Homo sapiens: one gene and its partner. The protein of the gene in region 2 purifies or fractionates together with the protein of the main gene of each other region. This does not show direct contact. Each region holds a gene or a part of one and is shown on either strand. Other genes may lie near its edges. The genes, in order: VIPAS39 and MATN4.

The links.
Region 1: the proteins of MATN4 (region 2) and VIPAS39 purify together in Homo sapiens (affinity purification with mass spectrometry; 2 studies listed by BioGRID and IntAct, with this or other methods). This does not show direct contact.

The regions. Positions count from the first base shown.
Region 1 is NC_000014.9:77,426,559-77,430,383, forward strand, and holds the end of VIPAS39 (spermatogenesis-defective protein 39 homolog), read right to left. Parts: intron 3,612-3,825; coding exon of another isoform or gene 3,561-3,611; exon of another isoform or gene 3,532-3,560; intron 3,210-3,531; coding exon 3,123-3,209; intron 2,538-3,122; coding exon 2,448-2,537; intron 1,917-2,447; coding exon 1,812-1,916; intron 1,079-1,811; coding exon 1,058-1,078; 3' UTR 117-1,057; downstream 1-116.
Region 2 is NC_000020.11:45,295,562-45,298,561, reverse strand, and holds part of MATN4 (matrilin-4 isoform 1 precursor), read left to right. Parts: coding exon 1-392; intron 393-491; coding exon 492-644; intron 645-3,000. UniProt on the Homo sapiens protein: Major component of the extracellular matrix of cartilage.

The DNA of each region.
Region 1 (3,825 bases), on a different chromosome or scaffold from region 2:
TAACCTGACATGTGCCGACAGGCTGCTAAATGCAGTCACTGAGGAAGACTTGTAATGATCCTAAGATCCTGAGCAATTATTTCATCATTCTACACAAAACCACCAGGAGCGGGAGAGAAGGCACCAAGGAAGAAATACCTTTATTAGGAGTCTAGGCATGTCAGAAAAACCCAGTTCAGTCACAGAAAAGGAGGCAAATATTGGTACAGAGCAAGAATCCAAGTGTGAAAATAAAACCTCCATCTAAATATCCTAACAGAAATGCTGCTGAATTTAGCCCAGGTGAAACTTCTGAAAGCTCCTGGTGAAATGAGATTTTTGCATAAAGAGAGAGCTCTCCAGCACTGCTGCATCTGAGCTTCTTATAAAGTGACGGGTCTTGGCCAGCAGTAGAGGAAGAGATAAAGGGGATGTCTCATCACCCAAGCAAGGTCGTCTGTGTTCAAGTGAGAGAAGAACCTTAGGGTTTTGGACAGAGTAAACTGGGGCAGCAGAGGGAAAATGGCTGAGGAAACACAACGTCTAGGCCATGTGTGGCATAATGTGGAGGGGTCTGTGCAGTCTGGTGTGAGTGCATCTCCAGGAGGTCTTGGGAAACACTGGCATTCCTTCCTGAGGCCATTTTGGTTCTGTTCTGACTTCATTCAGAGCAGAACTGCCAATGTCCAGCGCCAAGTCCTGGATCATAATTAGCTGAGTGGAATGCAGTAGCCACCCTATGACTCCCATACCTCTTCCTTTCTGGAGCAGTCACTTTTCTCAGACCAAGTGAGATCTTACCCAGTAGGGGCCCAATCTAGAAATCACTCCCACCTTCATATGAGCACCAGGTGGAGAGAATCATTCTCATGACTCAAAGCTTTAGATCTCGATCCTCAGATGATGTTCCTTGGACAGAAGATCAGTCTGAAGTTATCTGTGTCAAGAGTAGCTGGCACTGCCCATGGGTAATGGGCCCAAGCGATGTGATGCCGCAGCTCTCCCAAAGAAGAGCTCTCTCTGCTTTCACAGGCAGGAGAGGAGGAAATGAGGCAGGCTTCAAGGTAGTCAATGCCACTTAATTCTTCCATCGAATTTGCTGTGGAAAGAGGAAACAATGAAAGTGTGTGATCAGTTTTCACTTATCCCTACAGCAAGGCAGAGAAAATGCAACAAAACAAGGCTCAGCTAGATAATGTAAGGAAAAGAAAAAGTAGAATCAGATCAGGAGGTGGGGGATGTTGAGAAATTTTTTAAAATATATGGGGGAGTTCATTTATTCAAAGATGCATTAAACACCTATTTTGTATTTTACAAGCCTAATTTTGGTCATTTGACCCTAAGGTAGGTTCCAAAATACCTAACAGGGAACTAACTTTCATATTAACAAAGAGCTCAGTAATTTCCTGCTGTGAGAGACGAACCAGCTGTGCTCCCCAGGTAGCTAACATCTATTTCACCCACTTCTTATTTTCAACTGGTAGGTCCCATCCATCCCCACGAGACCATACAGTTTGGATATTCTGAATCTGTAACATGTTTTCATACTTTCAATATTTAGTTTCTCCTACATGCTAGGTTTAACTATTATCACAGCATTACAGTTAAGTCTTAGCTTGAGGTCCCCAGATTACCCCCCTATCATACCGCATCTCAGGAGTAATTTCTGCTATTCAAAGCAGTGCTTTTGACATTGTGGCCAGAGGAGAGCCTTACATCCATGTGGCTTAGCCAACTGCAATCCTTCCAGACCTTGGGAACATACATTTGGTACTATTTTGTGAACTGTCTGTCTCCTGAGCCTGCTGGAGGGGTGAACTGTAGCTGCTCACCGAGCTGCTGAGAAGAGCATCAATCTTCTCCTCCTCTGCTGATCCTTTATCTACCTTACTCCTGTATGCTAGCAACTGTTGACGATCCTTCAGGTCCCGGTAGGTCTGTGCATCAAAACAAACAATACAAACCTCCAATCAGCCTCTGTACAGGGTTCTTTTTGCCCAGGATGGTCTCAAACTCCTGGGCTCAAGCAATCCTCTCTCCTTAGGCTCCTGAGTAGCTGGAACTACTGGTGTGTGCTACTGTGTACACATGAGGGCTTATTTCTTTTTGTCATTATCACTTTGACCCAACGCTCAAGGAGAGGCTAAGAGGCTATAGTGGGATAACAGTGGGGTCCAGTGCCCACAGAACTCCATGTTGGAGAGAAGACTACACAGCTTGTATAGCTTGATTTAGTTCTATGAATTCTCCAAGTACGACAAGTTTATAAAAACACAGAGAAAGCAGTCAGAGGGCTGGGAAAATAATACAGGAGTGCTGGTCTCCAAACAAACTCTTGCCAGATTATTCTGTCCATTCAGTCAAACCTGGTGGGAGCACCTCAGGATCTTGGACAGAGAATATTATAATCCCCACCCTGCTTCGCCACTGAGGATCTAACGGAGGACTCCCATTTCTTGGGGACTCACATCAATGACGACATCATGGCACTTGAACTTAGTGGCTAAGTTCAACTTCGTGTCCACATCTTCCACCAGATTGACATACTCCTGTAATATCTGTGGGAAGAGGTACTTCCGATTAATGATTCAAACACCCATAAGGCACAGAGCTCTACAAGGTAGAAAAGAAAGTCCTGAAGAAGGCAAAAGAGTTCAATAGCTAATGTTTCCAGTTTCCATCATCAACCACAGGACTAGTTCTGCAATGGGAATGAGGTAACGCTACACAGTACTTCCATGCTGCCTCAGTAAGCAGGAAAGAGCACACTTCTCCTGATCCTCGAGCCAGATACACATGCCAGCAATGAGTGCTCTAGCTGTGATCCAGTGCTCTGCTCATTTCTCCCTGATGTCTTTTCTCCACGAGTTCTCCTTTTCTATCATTTGAACAGTACATCAGTATTCCACTTGGGCTAACACAGTAGATGCTACTCAGAGAGGACAGTTTGGAATTGTTTCTAAAGGGGAGAAAGGGAGAGAATTTCACTCCCTGGCCTTTTCTGTCTTGAGGCCTATTGCAGCCATTGTGCTGCCTTTAAGGGAAAACAAGAGCAGATCGGGTCTCCCATCACTGACCAGTAAGAGGCTTAAAGTTAGGTCTCCAAGAATATCCTGTACCCAACTCTCTTCAGGACCCATTACCTGCACAGGGGCATTGTTCTTGTGCAAAATTTCGACAACCCGATGGAAGCCAATGGGTGCTCTCTTCTTGGTATAGCCCAGCCAGTTCTGAAAGAGGAAGATGGGGTAGCGGCAGGTAGGCCAGGCACACTCAACACATTCTAGGTTAGTCTATGTTTTACGATCAGACCAGAATAATGTGGTGGGTGAGTGGGGGTGCTGAGGGATACAGAAATAATGAGAAATGAATTTTTCAGAAAAATCAAGGGATTTGAGAGAGTGGAAATGAATCAGGTTTGAAATAACTTCTTAGATCTATAGAAACGAATGCAGGGAAAAGTCTTGAAATACTACTAAATGGGATAAGTAACTTACTTAATATTTGTAGTATGAACTTATCAATGTAGAAAATAATTCCATCTTCCATATCTTTGTAAGTACAGATGTTTATTTGCAAATTCATGAGGGAAGGTCTGGAAAGCTACCCATTAAACTTTTAACAGTGTTTGCCTTGAGAAAGGGGGTGAGATAGGAGTAGGTAGAAAATGAAAAAGGAACTTCACTCTTTCTATACTTTAATACAGTGTTTGATTTTGACAACAGACACATATTGCTTTGTTAATATAACTAATTAAATAATTAACAAATAGGAAAAACAGAAAATTTTTAAACCCATAATGGAAAAACAGATATTTAAAACGTAAACTAATTCATATTGAACCGC
Region 2 (3,000 bases):
CCTTGTTCTGCTGGTTGATGGCTCCAAGAGCGTGCGTCCACAAAACTTCGAGCTAGTGAAGCGCTTCGTGAACCAGATTGTGGACTTCCTAGATGTGTCCCCCGAGGGCACGCGGGTGGGGCTGGTGCAGTTCTCGAGCCGCGTGCGCACCGAGTTCCCTCTGGGTCGCTACGGCACCGCAGCCGAGGTGAAGCAGGCGGTCCTGGCCGTGGAGTACATGGAACGCGGCACCATGACAGGGCTGGCGTTGCGGCACATGGTGGAGCACAGCTTCTCCGAGGCGCAGGGTGCACGGCCCCGTGCCCTTAACGTGCCTCGTGTTGGCCTGGTCTTCACGGATGGCCGCTCCCAGGATGACATCTCGGTGTGGGCAGCGCGCGCCAAGGAGGAAGGTGGGCTTGGCATGGGACACAGTGGGCTGGGGTTGGGTCAGACGCTGGGAGGCAGCTTTCCCGAGGCCTGGGGCACCCTCTGAGACCCCGGCCTTGCAGGCATCGTCATGTACGCCGTGGGCGTGGGCAAGGCGGTGGAGGCGGAGCTGCGCGAGATCGCCTCGGAGCCAGCGGAACTGCACGTGTCCTATGCCCCGGACTTCGGCACCATGACGCACCTGCTGGAGAACCTCAGAGGCAGCATCTGTCCAGGTGAGCGCATCTCTCTCGGGGCTCCTCCTCTCTCTCATTGCCCGTCCTCTGATATCTCCCCTTCCTATTCACTCCCTGCCCACTTTGTAGTTATAGCCAGAGGTTGGGCTCACTAGACAGAGCTTTGCTACTCCAAATGTGGTCTGCAGGCCAGCGGCAGGGCGGTCACCCGGTAGCTTCTTAGAACTGAAACATTTCTGGTGCTCTCCAGACCGAATGAATCAGAATTTCCACTTCGACAAGATTCTCAGGTGATTTGTAAGCATATTAAAGTCTAAGAAATCCTAGACTAGGCTACCTGTCCCCCAAATCAGTGGAGGTTCAGAATAATTTGGGAAATTTTTTTGAAGGCACACCAGACAGCATTTGTAAGTGGAGCCACAGCATATATCCCTGAACTTGTTAGAATTCAACCTTATGAACTTGGCAAAGTGGCAGGACTGAATATATTTTAAGTATGCAAAGACTTTTTTTTTTTTTATTGGGGACAACATACCTCATAAGTGCAATCCCTCTACTTCATCATCTGGTGCTCAGCTGAGGAAAAAGAGACTGACTCTACCTGTGAAGAAGGGGACTCTTGAATCGCATGCAGTGTACTGTGCTCTAGGTGATACAGGGAATGTCTCCAGGGTAACTTTTACCCTAGAGACTTTAGACACTAGCCCAGGCTTAAGATGTGACTCTTCTTCCCATTTATCAGACTGCAGCTCCAGAAACAGACTAAGTAGGGCTGGTTTGGGTCTGGAGAATTTGCCTTTTTTTTTTTTTAGATATATGTAGGGGGGCTGGGCGCAGTGGCTCACACCTGTAATCCCAGCACTCTGGGAGGCCGAGGCGGCTGGATCACTTGAGATCAGGAGTTCGAGACCATCCTTGGCAACATGGTGAAACCCTGTCTTTACCAAAAAATACAAAAATTAGCTGGGCAAGGTGGTGGGCACTGAGGCAGGAGAATTGCTTGAACCTGGGAGGTGGAGGTTGCAGTGAGCCGAGATTGCACTACTGCACTCCAGCCTGGTGACAGAGTGAGACCCTGTCTCAAAAAAAGTATATATAATATACTATATATACTATATTATATAATATGTGTTTGTGTATGCATGCACATGCACGTGCATGTATATACACATACAAATATACACATACAGTCCTTCCCCCAACTCTCCTTCCCTCCCCGCTCTCAGCCAATTCTAATTATTGTGGCTCTTTCAGATTAGGGGCTCTTTCAGAGCTCTTCCTATGTGACTCTTATGGGCCCTGCAGTGTGACTTTGGACGAGTCACTTACCCCACACCTACCTTAACTTTTCTCTTCGGTAACAGGAGAGGCACTGGCTGCCCAAGGTTACCTCTAGTTCTAGAGTTCTAAGAGAAGTCTGGGTTTTGTGGTTGAAGCTCTTTATCAATTGGTGGTATGACTGTTCCCTGTCTCCAACCCTTTGTTTAGAGAAACAAATCTGTGAAGTTAGGGGTCTTTGCTGGATTCCAGCAGTTTGTTCATAGTACATATAAGACTAAGATGAAGAGACAACTTTTAAATCATTATGGCAGTGTTTTCAAAGGTTAAATGGCAGGTATTGTGCTTATTATTTCACCACGTGTAATCCTTTTTCTTTTTTTTCCTAAGGTACTTTTATTGTAGCATTTTTTTTTTCTATGTCATTCCCTGTAATCTTTTTTTTTTTTTTTTTTTTTTTTTTTGAGATGGAGTCTCGCTCTGTCATCCAGGCTGGAGTGCAGTGGTGCGATCTCGGCTTACTGCAACCTCTGCCTGCCAGGTTCAAGCGATTCTCCTGCCTCAGCCTCTCGAGTAGCTGGGACAACAGGCGCATGCCACCACGCCCGGCTAATTTTTTCTAGTTTTAGTAGAGATGGGGTTTCACCGTGTTAGCCAGGATGGTCTTGATCTCCTGACCTCGTGATCCACCCGCCTCAGCCTCCCAAAGTGCTGGGATTACAGGTGTGAGCCACAGCACCTGGCCTCCCTGTAATCTTAACAATGGCACATGCTTATAGAATTTCAGTGAATCTAAGATACCATTCATTTTAAGATTCATCACTACCTTATGTACTGCTAAGAAAAAACATGTGCCAGTTTTAATTGTAAGGCCTCCTGCCCAACCCCCAAGATGTTGATGTGTGGGGAGATAGAGTTGGATCAGGATCAGTGGTTCCTAAAAATTAGGTCACACCAGAATCACCTGGTGGACCTTTAAAAACACAAATTGCAGCTGGGCATGATGGCTCATGGCTGTAATCCCAGCACTTTGGGAGGCCGAGGTGGGCAGATCACAAGGTCAGGGGATCGAGACCATCCTGGCTAACACAGTGAAACCCCGTCTCTACTAAAAATA